Linked DNA regions of Homo sapiens. The gene in region 5 interacts genetically with the main gene of each other region. Each region holds a gene or a part of one and is shown on either strand. Other genes may lie near its edges.

Region 1 (3,528 bases), on a different chromosome or scaffold from region 5:
GCTGAGATGCGAGGGAGAATCATTTCAGTTCGAGGCTGCAGTGAGCTGTGATCGCACCACTTCACTCCAGCCTGGGCAACAAGCAAGACTCTGTCTCTAAAAAAATAAAAATAAAATGTGTGGGCGCAGTAGTAGCCAGTAATCCTATACAGAGAGTTAAATGTAGCTTGTGTTCCATTATTCTTCTTCCTGTTTTATCTCTGAAGTCATTATTTTTGCTGGCTTTCGTGTCTGATGACCTGGTTTTACCTATTTTCTGCAGAGTTTTATGTATTATAAAATGTCAATAAAATGTATTTATTAAATTTATGCTAAACTGCAGTCTTTATAGGTTTATAAAAACTTTCTAATTTTAAAGCCTCTAATTGTTTAAGATCCTAAGTATAACTGGATGATAAGCCTTTGTATAAAAAAAGGCCAGAGCCAGCTTGCACACAGTGTAATTTGACTGTTCCTTCCAGTTCAGGGTAGCATTGAGCTATTTGCTGGCGCAGAGTGATTAGGGTCTTTAGCTTCCCTTCTTTGCAGTGTTTTAATAGGAAAATATCATTTATTAATAAGAGGTAATATCTTACTTTACTTGTATACTTTTTCCATTGTAAACCCCTTCCTTTTGTATGCTGGACTCCTAAGAAGATTAAATCCCCTGTAACTTACTTGACTGATGTTCATCTGTCATTTTACCTGGCATTTTGATGTCCCCATCTTTTAACTTTATTTACTTGTATGTTTCCTACAAGAGCAGTAACATCTTTATTTAATACACATAAATGCTTTTTTCACTCTTCAGCAAGGATTTATTAAGTAACTATTGGGTGCCTAGTGCTGTGCTACATTCTGTCAGACATGTTAAAGGAAAAGAGAGGTAGAAAATTTAATGCTTTAGCATTTACAGTCCATCTGGGGATAGAAAACATTCAAGTGAAAATGGCTTTGTATATCTGAGGTGGTGTATAGAGGAACCTTTGAAGACTGCCTGCATAGATCACTAGGTCTAGGCAAGGGGAGAGTTGCTTTGAGCTGGAATCAATTTTTTAAATTTATTTTTAATTTTTCTTGAGACAAGGTCTTGCTCTGTCACCCGGGCTGGAGTCCAGTGGCATGAGCATAGCTTGTTGCAGCCTTAAACTCCTAGGCACAAGTGATCCTTCCACCTTAACCTCCTAGATACCTGGGACTACAGGCATGCACCACCACACTTGGCTAAATTTTAAAAATTTTGTAGAGATAGGGTCTTGTGATGTTGCCCAGGCTGGTCTCAAACTCCTGGCCTCAAGTGATCCTCCCCCATCGACCTCCCAGACTGCTGAGATTACAGGCATGAGCCACCATGCTTAGTCTTCAATTTTTTATTCTTTCTTGAGGGAAGTGGTTCTGTAGTTAGACTTTGATTGATGTCCAAGTTTTGGCTTAACAAGCTGAGAAGTTCAGTATGTGCCAAGAATTACAGGTGAGGAGACTTGGGGAAAGGAGAATAAGAAGGTTTTGTTCGATGGTGTTAAGCAAACTGGTTTAACTAGACTGGACATTGAGAAATAAGTTGGAACTAGTTGATAAAGGGCTTAAGAACCTATCTAATATAGCAGTTTGCCCTGAATTTGAAAAGCAGCAGATTCTTAAATGGTAACTGACACATCATAAGGGTGGTGGGTTTTTTGTTTGTTTGTTTTTGAGACGGAGTTTCACTCTTGTTGCCCAGGCTGGAGGGCAATGGCACAATCTCGGCTCATTGCAACTTCTGCCTCCTGGGTTCAAGCAGTTCTCCTGCCTCAGCTCCCAAGTAGCCGAGATTACAGGCGCCCGCCACCATACTCAGCTAATTTTTATATTTTTTAGTAGAAACGTGGTTTCACCATGTTGGTCAGGCTGGTCTCAAACTCCTGACCTCAGGTGATCCACCTGCCTCGGCCTCCCAAAGTGCTGGGATTACAGGTGTGAGCTACTGTGCCCGGCCAAGGGTGGTGTTTTCAAACGATGAATCTGACACGGATGTGTAAGATTAATTATATTAGGGAAAAATGAGAGTAGGGAACCTGATGCTAATTTAGGTTTGAGTGATGAAAATTTAGGTTAGGGTGATGGCAATAAAAATGTGACAGATGTTAGAATGAAGATAAAGTTGCAGGATGCTAAGGAAGAGATAGACAATGACAATTAGATTGGTCTGGAAAGAAATGATCAGAGGCCATAGATCACTTTCCTTGGAATAGTAGAGGAAGAGGATTAAGGAATAGGAGGAAGTTGGGGCCATTGGGGGTTACACATTTCAGTGATTTTTCTGTTAAGGTAGGGCTGAGTCAAATGAAGAGTTCCCTCTTAGCCACCTCTTCAGGACAGGGAAATCTTCTAAGGGTTTGAAGCAGAAAGAAAAAAGATAGTGGCCGGGTGCGGTGGCTCACGCCTATCATCTCAACACTTTGGGAGGGTGAGGCGGGCGGATCATTGGAGGTCAGGAGTTTGAGACCAGCCTGGCCAACATTAGTGAAATTCTTTCACCTCCAGACCAATGTTTGAACAGTTTCTGTCTCACATAGCTTAACGCTGTCTTTCTCATTTTCACTTTAGATCCAGAAGCAGCAAGGTCTAGCAATTCCAAAATCACCACCACGCTGGGTCTGGTTGTCCATGCTGCAGGTAGGGTTGGATTGCAGTGGAACTTCTTTGTTTTCTATCGCACAGGGGAGACCTTAGTGTTTATATTTCAGGGACCGTCCTCATTGAATGCTCTTGGACTGGCCTTTGAGGAAAAGGTTTCTTAATGAAGTCCTCCAACACAAGCACAAGCTTGGTGTGCTCAGTGTCAGGGGTTTGCAAGCTAAGAATGGTTTCTATACTTTTTAATGGTTTAAAAAAAAAAAGAGAGAGAGGAACATACTGTAGCACATGAGAATTATATAATTCAAATTAAGGAAGTTTTATTGGAACACAGCCTTGCCCATGTATTTATGTATTGTTTGTGACAGTGAATTTGATTAGGGAAAAATGAGAGTAGGGAACCTATTGCTGATTTAGGTTTGTTTGAGTGATGAAAATTTAGGTTAGGGTGATGGCAATAAAAAATGGAGAAAGGCAAATGTGACTGATGTTAGAATGAAGATAAAGTTGCAGGAGGCTGAGGAAGAGATAGACAATGACAATGATCCATCTCTTTTGTTTTTGTGCAACAGTGGCAGAATTGAACAGTTGCAAGAGACCAAATAACTGCAAAGCCTCAAATATTTACTGTCTAGCTCTTAAGAAGAAGTTTGCTCTTTTCATTCTTGGCTCTAGAATGTCATCTGGAAAAGAGCCTTGGCGCTTCTGTCCTGAACAGCTCTGTTACCAGTTTATATGCAAAACACCAGTTTAAGCAGAAGTGGTATGCAGTGGAATGCAGAGATCTTAGCATTGCTGACAGGGTACACTTTAGAATCATAACCCAAACCTAGTCCTAGTAATAGAATTCTGTCAGTGGCAAAGAAAGGCATGTGAAAGGTGGTACACTGTTACCTGGCCCTTTCTAAGTATAATATGCTTTTCTAACAAATT
Region 2 (2,285 bases), on a different chromosome or scaffold from region 5:
GGAGCTGGTGGAGTTCCGCCGCCGCCGCTGCTGCCCTGAGAACTTGCGCTTGGAGTAGGGCAGCTGCAGAAACACTGTTCCTGAAGAGAAAGGGGAGCGCCTGTGTGGCAGCCACCAGGAGGGCTCCTGGAGCCTGCTGAGGTGGTTCTGCAGCCATAGGCTTGGTGCAAGGAAAGGGATGTGGACCCACCTGCCCAACTCTGCCCGTAGCTCCTCACCTGTAACGTGGATATACTGAGGCTTGTTCTCAGCAGGGAAGTTAAAAGCAGAGGCAGAATATTTATCTTGTACAAACCCAAACCTAGGGAAGGACAGGAAGACATGCTAATCAGCGCCTCCTTAGTTAAAGGGGCAAGGGAAGAGAATGTAGCTGATAGGACTCTCGGACAGCCTGAGACACAGAGATCTGGAAAGATCTCTTTCCAGATTGCACATGCAGGCTGCTTATTTTTGTCCTCACCCTCACCACTTTCTGACCTCTACCTCTTCCAACACCATGGCTTACCAGACCTCCTCACACCCAGCAGCCCGTCATCTCCGTGGTCCACCATGTCACTACCACCATAGTGAAAGAAAGCCTTCCCACCGGCTGCACTCTTCATCCAGCCTTCATCTCTGCTCAGACAGCCCGTCCCTCCTACCATGTTCCCTACCCATCCCAGCAGACCTTCCCACTGAGCGTTCTCCCCCATCCCATCCTGGGCCTCTCACTGGAATCTACCTCATGTCTTGACAGGCCACACATACCCACCCGCATACTCGAGGCTATCCATTCCTCCAGGGAAGGTCCTTATCTTTTTTTTTGGTGAGAGGGAATCTCGCACTGTTGCCCAGACTGGAGTGCAATGGCATGATCTCGGCTCACTGCAACCTCTGCCTCCTGGGTTCAAGTGATTCTCCGCCTCAGTCTCCTGAGTAGCTGGGATTACAGGCATGTGCCACCATGCCTGGCTAATTTTTGTATTAGCCAGGATTGTTCTGGAATTAGCCAGGAGAATCACTTGAATCCGGGAGGCGGAGGCTGCAGTGAGCTAAGATCATGCCATTGCACTCCAGCCTGGGTGACAGGGCGAGACTCCATCTCAAAAAGAAAAAAAAAGAGGAACGCCAAGCTGGGGCTCTCTGCTTCCCTGTGCTCTGGAAATGGGCAGGAGGAGCCATTTTTCATCTATGGCTTGTTCTATTCCTGGTTTTTCTATTTCCATAAGGCACATTTATTACAGTTCTACCTGCTAAGAGCTGTAAAGGACGTGGTAACAGATGTGGCTCCTGCCCTCTAAGTCTGAGGGGTTTATATAATGGAGACAGTGATGTAGGCAGAACTAAAGAAGGGAAAATGCCTGTCTTCTTTCCTGGACTGAGTTCCTTGGGGAGGTGCTGTGTTGTATCCTCTACATAATCTGCATTCCATAATTTTTTACCAAAGAATACATGAAGTCAAATATGCAAACTAAATGGGTAGGCTACTATGCACTGTAAGCTCCCTGTCTACAGGCTGATTATATGATGAGGATTGGCTCTGGATTTTGCCTTTGCAAAATCCTCTCTACTCTTGCTCTGTCATCCAGGCTGGACTGCAGTGGTACAATCTTGGCTCACCGCAACCTCCACCTCCCGGGTTCAAGCAATTCTTGTGCTTCCAGCCTCCCAAGTAGCTAGGATTACAGGCACGCGCCACCATGACCAGTTAATTTTTGTATTTTTAGTAGAGACGGGGTTTCACCATTTTGGCCAGGCTGGTCTTGAACTGCTGACCTCAGGTGATCCGCCTGCTTCGGCCTCCCAAACTGCTGGGATTACAGGCGTGAGCCACCACACCCAGCCTGCTTTCTCTCTACTTTCTAATTAAGGCTACTGATTTCCTCAGCATGGATCAGCCTGATTTTTTTTTACCAGAGTAATTTTTTTTTACCTCATTTCTTCCTTAGGTCACCAGGAAAGAACAAAAAGGCAATTTAACCACATGGTTCCTGGCCACCTGACTGTCCACTCAGGGAGAATGCAAGACAGAAACGCAGTAAGGGCAGGGGAGGGGATATAATCATCTCCACCTGCCCCAAGGAAGATGAAGGAGGAGCTGTAGGTCACAGCCTAGGGGCTGAGGAAGATGAAGGAGGAGCGGTAGGTCACAGCCTAGGGGCTGAGGAAGATGAAGGAGGAGCTGTAGGTCACAGCCTAGGGGCTGAGGAAGATGAAGGAGGAGCTGTAGGTCACAGCCTAGGGGCTGAGGAAGATGGACACTTTTTTAGCTCTTTCTGAGATGGACCTTATGGGTGGGCTGATGT
Region 3 (3,528 bases), on a different chromosome or scaffold from region 5:
ACCCTTACTCTTTTTAACTTCTCTACCATTCCTTCACATTCCTCCATTTTATTATTTGCAGGATAGCAATGATAGGATTCATATTTACCTCACTGGATTTTTATGAGACTTAAAAGACCAAATGCTTTGAATAGTAAAACATGAAATTAAAAGGGCTAGGATCTTTATTTTTATGTAATGGAGGGATGAAGATGGAGCACAGGAGAGTTTTTGGAAAGTGAAACTATTTTGCATAATATAGTAATGGTGGATACATGTTATATATTTGTCAAAACCTACAGTGCTTGACTATAGTCCCAGATACTTGGGAGATCGTTTGAGTCCAGAAATTTGACTTCAGCCTGGGCAACATTAATGAGACCTGTCTCTTAAAACAAAACAAACCAAAAACCAAAAACAATAAAACATACAACAAAAAGTGTGAATTCTAATGTAAATTATAGACATTAGTTAGTAATCAGTGTCAATATCATTTCATCAATTGTAGTAAATGTACCACATTAAAACAAGATGTAGGCCAGGCACAGTGGCTCACGCCTGTAAGGACAGCACTTTGGGAGGATAAGGTGGGCAGATCGCTTGAGGTCAGGAGCTGAAGACCAGCCTGGCCAATATGGTGAAACCCCATCTCTACTAAAAATAAAAAAATTAACCAAGCGTGGTGGCATGCACCTGTAATCCCAGCAGCTTGGGAGGCTGATGCACCAAAATTGCTTGAACCTGGGAGGTGGAGGTTACAGTGAGCCTAGATCAAGATCATGCCACTGCATAGAGCTGGACTCTTTCAAAAAATAAATAAATAAATAAATAAATAAAAATAAAAATAAAATAAAAAACAAGACGTAAATAACAAGAGAAACTGTGAGGAGTGGAAGAGGGTATGTGGAAACTCTACTTTCTGATGAATTTTTCTATGAACCTCAAATTCTTTAAAAAAAGTCTATTAAAAAAAAACCCACTGAAGAGCAATGGATGTTTAGAAAAACATGTATCTTTCAAAACAAGGATAAAGACTTCATAAATTAATATTTACCATTCTCCAGCTTGGCTGACTGAATTTAATTCTGTTACATTGTACATAATAGATGGCTCCAGTGAAACCTTCTCCATAAACATAGGTGAGGTTGTCATATTCTGAATCTGGGCTTCCAGAAATACTTCATCAGTCTGAGGATATGAAAAAAATATCCACCAAGGTGTGGTGGCATTTAAAATATTTATCTCAACAAAAATATCTTATCTATATGAAGAAAAAATATTAACCACAAATGTGATTAGTTCATGCCTGCAAATCAAAGTTACCACAATTAATGCAAGAAAAGAAATCTTCACCCTATCATAATTAACAGGGGCAAAGTCAAGTGTTAGTCAACTGATACCTTGTCAAACAATGGATGGAGGATAACTATATTTTGTCTTAACATCCCAAAATACTTAACTGGAATTTCATTTACAAATACTCTTTCTTTTCATTAGGTATTAAAATATTAAAATGTGCTTTAGTATGATGAATATACCTATGCTCCTATAATTTCAGTATTACGTTAAGATAATTAAGTCTTCATTATAATATGGCAGTATAACTTTGATTGTCATATTAATGCCAATTTAGATAGTGTAGTGACCACTAATACTATGAATAATCTATTTTGTAATCTTGAAGGATTTAACTTTTTAAATTAAAGCAATTTGCGAGTGGTCATTAGTGATTTCTTAGTTCATTTTAAATGTATATTGAGGGCTAAAAAAAGAATATGTGGATTATACTTCACCATCGTAGAGCTTTTAAATCAGGCAAAAGGTATTTTGTAGCCTCAGTGACAGATTTTAAAGCTGATGCTATTTAGCAATATTTGCCAGTAGGTAATTTTAATAATTAGATAAATTAGATAATTAGATAAATTTAGATAAATTAATTCCCCTAATTATGCTAAACATTATTTTATGCTATTTGGTTATTATTTTCCTTCATGTAATTGAAGGATAACAGACTAACTTGATTTATCTTTGAAACAAACCTACATGAAAAATGATACACTAAGGGTATTCAATAATTTTTTTCAAAAGTTTCATAGTAATATGTTTACTACACATAAATAACATAAAATCAACTATGACCAGAAAAATTTGCCACTTAAGAGCTTTTTATTTTTTTGAGACAGTCTCATTCTGTCACCCAGGCTGGAGTGTGGTGGGGTGATCTTGGTACACTGCAACCTCCGCCTCCCGGGTTCAAGGGATTCTCCTGCCTCAGCCTCCCGAGTAGCTGGGATTATAGGCGCGCAATATCATACTGAGCTAATTTTTGTATTTTTAGTAGAGACAGGGTTTCACCATGTTGGCCAGGCTGGTCTAGAACTCCTGACCTCAAGTGATCCACCCACCTCGGCCTCCCAAAGTGCTGGGATTAGAGGTGTGAGCCACTGTGCCTGGCCTATGAGCTTCCCCCAACCCCCACAAGATGGAGTCTTGCTCTGTTGCCCAGAGTAGAATGCAGTGGCAAGATCTCCTCTCACTGCAACCTCCACCTCCCAGGTTCAAGCGATTCTCCTGCCTCAGCCTCCCTAGTAGCTGGGACTACAGGCAGTGCCACCATGCCCAGCTAAATTTTTGTATTTTTATTTATTTTGAGACGAAGTTTCACTCTGTCACCCAGGCAGGAGTGCAGTGGTGCGATCTCAGCTCACTGCAACCTCTGCCTCCTGAGTTCAAGTGATTCTCCTGCCTCAGCCTCTCAAGTAACTGGGATTACGGGCAAGTGCCACCATGCCTGGCTAATTTTTGTATTTTTTATAGAGATGAGGTTTCACCATGTTGGCCAGGCTGGTCTCAAACTCCTGACCTCGTGATCCGCTCGCCTCGGCCTCCCAAAGTGCTGAGATTACAGGCATGAGCCACCGCGCCTGGCTGAGCTTTTTAAACACTAACACCAAGAAAATGAAAATCATTTGCAAAAATATAATGATTAAGTTATAATATAATGTACTATTATCTAAAATAAAACAGATTCTTTAGTTTTTGGGACATGTGTTCAAATGAAAATAGAAATAAAATGATTTATCAGTTTAAAAAAATGCATCATTTAATGGCATTTTTTGGTTACTGGTTCTAAAAAAAAGTACATATATCCCATCAATCCATTGCTTTTAAAAAAATAACCACAGACCCACATTTCAATTTAAAAACTGCAATTTTCTGCATAAATTTAGGAAGAGCTTAGATAAAACGAAAGAAAAACAAGCAGCATAATGGAAAATCAAGTTAGTTTGAACAGTTAGTGTAAAGCAATTTGATATTTTAAAAATTAAGAATTCAGTGCTAAGGCAGTTGATGTTATTACATATGTAATGTGATATAAGCAAATGCTGCTTATTGTAAATATAACTTTGAAAACAAAATTTTAGCCAAGTTGGGAAAATTTGCTTTTCTTCTGTTTCATTTTGTCAAGCGGCCATCATCACCTGACCCAGACTTAAAACTAAAACCACTGTGCATCTGAAAATGAATTTCGATTATACAGTCTACTCA
Region 4 (3,528 bases), on a different chromosome or scaffold from region 5:
AATCAAAATTTTCTCAATCACAAAAAAGATAAGCCTGAGGCAGAAGAATAGGATCTAGAGGCAAAGAACTTAAGGTTGTTTCACACAGACTTCCTACAACTACATTGAAAGGAAAACCCTAACTTTCCATGACTAAGTAACAAAAGGACCAGAGGCTGCTCCCTTTGACCTTTTCTGCATGGCAGGTGGGAAACTGGCTGTCCGGAACCACTCAGACTGATTGCTGGTGGAGTCTTAGTTTGCAGAGAAGTATAACTTTGTCTACTTTTCATTTGCATAGAAGCATAACTTTGTAACTTCACCTTAGCCTCTGAGTGGCTGCTTTCCGCAACCAATCAGACTAACTGCAGGCTACCACTTCATTTACAAGAGGTGAGCATGAAGTGGCCAATGGGAAACTTCTAGTGGGTATTTAGACCCAAGAAGATTCTGTATCCGTGCCCTTGAGCCCGCTGCTCGGCCCACTCCCACACTGTGGAGTGTACTTTCGTTTTCAATAAATCCCTGCTTTCATTATTTTGTTGCTTCCTTCTTTGTGACCTATGCAACATGATGACTAAATCCTGAGCCATTAAAGGCAGGTTCATTCATCAAGGACCAAAACGTTCATGTTCATTCAGCATTCGTGGGTCTGCTCTACCCAAGAAGTTTTCTCACTCTTCATTGGTTCTACCAAGCATAAGCAAATCAAACAACTCATTGAGAGAATGTCATCAGCCAATAAAATAAGAAACTGCTCCCAGGCCCTGAATCAGCTTATTAAAATTGACCTCTGGGACTAGCTTCTCCTAATACATAAAATTATAAAAAAGACTTAGACACAGAACCTCAAGTCTGTTCTACCAGGAAATTTTACACAAGTATTCCAGAAATCAACCAATCATTCTAACCCATTAGTGGTATTCAGTAAGATTGAAAGTATTCAATAAAATCAGAACAAAATGTCTCATACAAGATTTCTGGGCAGGGCATGGTGGCTCACGCCTGTAATCCCAGCACTTTGGGAGGCCGAGGCGGGTGGATCACGAGGTCAAGCATTCGAGACCAGCCTGGCCAACATAGTGAAACCCCGCCTCTATTAAAAATACAAAAAATTAGCCATGTGTGGTGGCGGGCGCCTGTAATCCCAACTAGTCAGGAGGCTGAGGGAGGAGAATTGCTTGAACCTGGGAGGTGGAGGCTGTGGTGAGCCGAGATTGCGCCACTGCACTCCAGCCCGGGCAACAGTGCAAGACTCTGTCTCAAAAAAAAAAAAAAATTACTGACTCAACAGATTTTACAGTTTATTTAAATATTAGTCCTAACTCAAAGGAAAAAGTAACAAATGAGTCTGCTTTATTTAAAGACTGCAAGTGAGCAGAGGCCGGAAAAAGGGCAGAGCTCACCTGGCCGGTGTCTATTGGCTGCTTCAGCAGGAAGGGTGCTGCCCTGGAACCTCCGAGCTCCACTCTTCCCACCAGTTCCACCAGGATAGTGATAGATGACAGAAGCTGAACACAATCCTTCCAGGGCAGCTGGGCATTAAGAAAACAAAAAACAAAAACCAGAAAACAAAAAACAAAAACCAGCATCATTAGTCAAGTCAGTGACCCTTCATTAGCTCAAACTGCAGTAACTAACAATGATTTAAACAGGTGGATTATTTGGAAATGCCAATTTTTCTCCCAAAACAAAGATCAAACCTAAAGATCACTAGTTTTTTGCAAATGGGAACTTGCCACCTGTCTTTCCCATGCCCATGTCCAGGCAGGCAATGCAGAACACTCTCACCACACTCAAGGTTTCCCTGCAGGGCTGACTGCACACGTAAAACAGGCCAGCCTCTGCGTTCATCCATTCACGTGGCCGGCATTCCTGCACAAACTGTGTGGCAGACTGCGCCAGGTTCTGGAGCTACAGAGATGTATAACAGAAAGTGCCCTGGATTGAAAATATTTCACAGTAATAGCACCAAAGCAAGACCAGAATGCCTTTCCAGACCATGCACCCCATAGGCATCTGCTCCTTTTGAGGTTGTAGTCCTCCCTCTTCCTCAAAAACAGCCATATTAACTCGCTACACAGTCCGTTCTTCTCTCATGACGTAACAACCTAATAATCTCCAGCTATGCCACATGCCTTAGAAGGTGTGCCACAGTATTCATCTCTATCATCTTTATCCATTAACTCAGTGCTCCTTAAACTTTTGGTCTAAAAACTCCTTGATGCTCTTAAAAATGACTTAGGATCACAAAGAGCTTTTTTTGTGATGTGGGTTACACCTGTAGATATTTACCATATTGGAAAATAAAACTGAGAAAAGGATTTAAGTATTTATGTATTAATTCCTCTTAAAATAGGCCAGACGCAGTGGCTCATGCCAGTAATCCCAGCACTTTGGGAAGCCAAGGTGGGTGGATCACTTGAGGTCAGGAGTTCAAGACCAGCCTGGCCAACATGGTGAAACCCTGACTCTACTAAAAATACAAAAATTGGCCAGGCATGATAAAACACACCTGTAGCCCCAGCTACTCGGGAGGCTGAGGCAAGAGAATCGCTTGAACCTGGGAAATGGAAGTTTCAGTGAGCTGAAATCACGCCATTGCACTCCAGCCTGGGCGACAGAGTGAGACTGACTCAAAAAAATAAAAATAAAAAATAAAATAATAAGCTTGTCATGTGTTAACAGTTTTATGAAAAATAATTGTTTTCCAAAACAAAAATAAAGTACTGGAGGAATGGCATTATTTGACATGTTCACACATTTCTTTAATATCAGAGTTAATACAAGTCAGCTGGATCTTCTATCAGCTTCTACATTCAGTCTGCTGTGATGTCAGGCCTAAGTAGCTTGTGGACAACTCCACTGTCCACTTCTGAGAGGCTGAGCATGGAAGAGGCCCACGGCACACAGCACCGTCCTTCTCTGTGTGCCCTTTAGGAGCCCTCCTCATCCAGTCCAGCGCCGCATGGGGAAGGCATATGGGCAGTACCAGTCTTTCTGGAGAAGCACCTGCTGCACATGCCCTAGTCTCAGAGCCCACTGGGAGATGCACAGATTCTCTAATTGATACAATAAGGAGTACTTAGGGAGACAATGCTCTTTCAAGAAAACCAAGTAAAACTATGTCTTTCTCAGCCTGCATAATCCTTTATCTGATTCTCTTTTCTTTTCCATCCCTAATTCTTACTCCCTTTCTTTCCCCACTTCTATTTCCCTAGCCTCTTTAAAAAACTAAATTTAAGTCCATTTTAAGTTTTATTTTGGTTTTTTCTTAAGAGACAAAGTCTCACTCTTGCTCAGGATGGAGTGCAGTGGTGCGATCGTGGCTCACTGCAGCCTTGACCTCCTGAGCCCAAGCGATCCTCCTGCCTCACCCTCACAAGTAGCTGGGACTACAGGCACAGACCACCAAGCCCAGCTAATGTCTTTTTATTTTATTTTATTTTATTTTATTTTGGTAGAAGTGAGGTCTCCCTATGTTGCTCAGGCTGGTCTCCACCCAGTTAATGTTTTTTAATTTTGTTTTGTAGAAGTGAGGTGAAGTAA
Region 5 (3,500 bases):
GTAGAGACGGGGTTTCACCGTGTTAGCCAGGATGGTCTCGATCTCCTGACCATGATCATGATCCACCCACTTTGGCCTCCCAGTTTTTTTTTTTTTTTTTTTTTAAATATAAATCTACTAAAAGAACAAGTTGGACCATAAGCTGTGAAAAAATCACACTGCGAAGAGAGAAGAGAGGTTCACACTATTCAGCCCTAAAAGACCACAGCTGGAAACCAGGTCAGGAGAAGAAAATCAAGGGAAATGATGGATGAGGAAAGGAAGAGATGGCAGAACCTGCTGTCTTCGGATAATTGAGGAGCTGAAATGCAGAAGGGAGATTTTTTCCCTCTGGTACCCCCAGAGCACAGAACACTGTAAATTGTGGCTTCAAAATAAATAACTTTCTAACACCTTCAATATTACCAATTGGAATGAGTTACTTTATTAGGTGATACATTCCCCTTTGCTGGAAAGTCCTTGGGTTGATGAGGAACAGCTATCTTGCAAAGATATGGAGGGGAGTCTTGTCTTTAAGCGGAAAGCTGGATGAGGTGATTTTTAAGACCCCCTATGTTTCAGTTTGCGTTCCCTTAAAAATAAAGCATGAGACAAGGGTTGGACGCAGGATGCAGGAAGTCTATCAGGGAGGTGACATCAGGAAGTGGGCAAGTGGGAAAAGCAAAACAGGGACAGAAGAGCCAATGAATCATATTGTTCAACTGTGTGCAACGAGGCTCACTCCTGCTAGAAACCCTCTGAAGAACCATGTAGCATGCATTCCAGAATGATTCTTGAAGGAAAGAAGACTGGGACAGTTATCCACCAACTCCAAAACCTCCTTGGTTGACAGCCATTAACTCCCCAGCACTTCCCAGACCACAGCCAGCTGGCTAGGGAAAAGCTCTTCCACCTTCTTTTCCTGACATGGTTTCCAGCTGTGGTCTCAAGTATGCATCAGAACAGCCAAGTGCTGGAGGTGGGAGCTGCAAGCATATGCGGGGCTGCTGCTGAAACACAGGAGGCCACGGGGGTGGGCATAACACCAGGGGAAAAACGTGCGGCCATGCCTTCGAAGTCCCAGTTTTTCTGGTTTAAAAAATGCAAGACCCTACAGCACTCCTGGCTCACCACTATAGCTCAGGTTCTAGCAGAGGTTACTGGGGGCATCCCCAAAATTGAGACCTCAGTGTTGTGACACAGGGAAACGATTTCAGGTCATATATTATGTTAAAGAGTTGACAAGAAATAAAAATCATAACACATAAACCAACCTTATGATCTCATAAACAAGCAACCCCCTGAAGAACACAGCAAACCAAAGCATCCTGTCTACCTGGCAATACGAATTTGCTTACTTCCCATTTTTGATACCTTCTCGGCCATACATTTTGTACATTCTAACATCTATAAAATGGATGTCATAACTTAATTGGTAGTGTTATTTTTCTTAGTGGTATATAAAATAATGATGCTTCTTACTAATTATGGTGTTTTAGATTTGATGGAACACACCATTCCTGATATTTTCAACTTAAAATATTCAATTCATTTGCTGGCCAATTGAAGACCAAAACAATTCCCTATCACCAAAGTTTAGAAAAGCTTCAACTTTAACATTTTCTCCAGAGGAAAAAAACAGAAATGTAAAGAAATTACAATGACTACTGATTAAATGTAATAAAACTGCCCCCTCAAAGAGGCCTAGAGAATTGCTGTTATTTAAAATGACTGATGATTAATGATAAGACACATATTAAATGAAGAGGATAATAAGCAAGATTCACCGATGGCTTCCTAAGATATTAGTTAAATTTTACCAAAGGCAATATTCATTTTAGATTTCCTGAGAGAAGTCATTCCTCATGGACAGTTTTTAAAGATAGCTAACTTTCTAACAAAGAGTGCTAGAGAATGAGAGTGTAATTAAAGAATTTGCTTGTTCTTATCCCCTGAATTCCCTCCCACTCCTTGAGGAATAATAACTCTTACAATTAGACAGACATTGTTAGATGCATATCCTGCAGGTTGCCTCCTCAGGCATTCGGCACACAAAGCATTCACTAGATTGGTTTAGGAAGGAGGTATACTATCCTCAGCAGGAAGAGACCCAAGAGGTGACAGACAAAACAACACACTGGGCAGATGGAAAGCTTATAGATATTCCAAGAAACCTGAGACTGGTAAAGGAATATCCTTATACAAAGTAATTCTTCTATAAGTGCTTTCTAAAAGTTAGATCTAAGTAGCTATTTACTCTAAGTAAAAGCATATACTAGCATTTTAAAGCCCAAAGACAGAAAAAAACATGAAGTGGTTTATTGAAATAGAGGTGAATACCCCAAGCTGCCAACAACCCTTAGGTGGAATTAAGAGATCATCATTTTTGTATTAATGGGAACTTAATTTTAGACTATGCCTTTCTAGTTATCTCCTTCAATATCTAAGTCTATCAGTAGATATATCTATATCAATGTTATACAAAGCAAAGCTGAAGCCAGGGATATAAAATGACTTCAATGAAAATACACAGTCCTGGGTGGAAAAAATCCTGGTCGAAGCATTAAAAATTATAGAAAAGTTGATAAGCCTGATTTATGGGTATCACTGAACATTTTTTACTATGAAATTTATCTATAAGAAACATGCAAATTAAAACATCACCTCTACGGCTTCCCAGGCCCATTTCCTGTACTTTGGATCATGAGTCAGTCTCCACATATACATGTAAGTCTCCATAACTTCTGGCCGTAAGATGTAGTATTTTTCATTTTGTCTTGTAGCGATGGCTTCAACACCACCATCAAATCTGAAAGCTTCTGGTCCCAGTTTCATAACTAAAGGACATGGAATGAATGAATAAGGGTTATTTTCCTGGACAGTGCTTACAGTCAATAACTTAAATGAAACTAGAAAGTACAGTCATCCCTCAGTATCTATGAGGGACTGGTTCCAGGACCCTCCGAGGATAACAAAATCCATGGATCCTTGAGTCCCTTATATAAAATGGCAAAGTATTCGCATACAACCTGGGTACATCCTCCCATATACTTTAAATCACCTTGTTTACTTATACTACTTAATACAGTGTAAATGTTATGTAACTAGGTGTTATACTGTATTGTTTAGGGAATAAAGATAAGAACAAAAACTCTATAAATGTTCACTACAGACAGAACCATCCATTTTTTGGGAACATTTCTGATCTGCAGTTGTGGAACCCAGGGATACGAAGGTCTGACTGTACTTTAACAACACTGAAGAGAAATGTCAAAGTAGTCATTTTAAAAACGAGTTATAAACATCATGTAATATATAATATTCATATACTTAAACAATTTAGTCATTGAAAAGAGTCCATTTTAGAAAATATTAACAATTTATTTTTTTCATTTAACCCCCATTTACTGAGCACCCACCAGGCAGATACAAGGCACCATGAAATACCATTTGAGTTAGCCAGAAACTTAGTGGTTGACAATCCTAAGTAATTTCGTAACAGAAGGCCAGTTATTTACACT

Evidence for each region.
Region 1: changes in MAN1A1 (region 5) and SLC39A9 together harm fitness less than expected from each alone (positive genetic interaction), as found in Homo sapiens cells (one large-scale study listed by BioGRID).
Region 2: changes in MAN1A1 (region 5) and DEPDC5 together harm fitness more than expected from each alone (negative genetic interaction), as found in Homo sapiens cells (one large-scale study listed by BioGRID).
Region 3: changes in MAN1A1 (region 5) and TRAPPC13 together harm fitness more than expected from each alone (negative genetic interaction), as found in Homo sapiens cells (one large-scale study listed by BioGRID).
Region 4: changes in MAN1A1 (region 5) and TRAPPC9 together harm fitness more than expected from each alone (negative genetic interaction), as found in Homo sapiens cells (one large-scale study listed by BioGRID).

The regions. Positions count from the first base shown.
Region 1 is NC_000014.9:69,450,676-69,454,203, forward strand, and holds part of SLC39A9 (zinc transporter ZIP9), read left to right. Parts: intron 1-2,565; coding exon 2,566-2,634; intron 2,635-3,528. UniProt on the Homo sapiens protein: Transports zinc ions across cell and organelle membranes into the cytoplasm and regulates intracellular zinc homeostasis. Participates in the zinc ions efflux out of the secretory compartments.
Region 2 is NC_000022.11:31,904,000-31,906,284, reverse strand, and holds part of DEPDC5 (GATOR1 complex protein DEPDC5), read right to left. Parts: intron 302-2,285; coding exon 219-301; intron 81-218; coding exon 1-80. UniProt on the Homo sapiens protein: As a component of the GATOR1 complex functions as an inhibitor of the amino acid-sensing branch of the mTORC1 pathway.
Region 3 is NC_000005.10:65,656,007-65,659,534, reverse strand, and holds part of TRAPPC13 (trafficking protein particle complex subunit 13), read right to left. Parts: intron 1,168-3,528; coding exon 1,034-1,167; intron 1-1,033.
Region 4 is NC_000008.11:140,433,727-140,437,254, forward strand, and holds part of TRAPPC9 (trafficking protein particle complex subunit 9), read right to left. Parts: intron 1,515-3,528; coding exon 1,386-1,514; intron 1-1,385. UniProt on the Homo sapiens protein: Functions as an activator of NF-kappa-B through increased phosphorylation of the IKK complex. May function in neuronal cells differentiation. May play a role in vesicular transport from endoplasmic reticulum to Golgi.
Region 5 is NC_000006.12:119,185,762-119,189,261, forward strand, and holds part of MAN1A1 (mannosyl-oligosaccharide 1,2-alpha-mannosidase IA), read right to left. Parts: intron 2,817-3,500; coding exon 2,644-2,816; intron 1-2,643. UniProt on the Homo sapiens protein: Involved in the maturation of Asn-linked oligosaccharides. Progressively trim alpha-1,2-linked mannose residues from Man(9)GlcNAc(2) to produce Man(5)GlcNAc(2).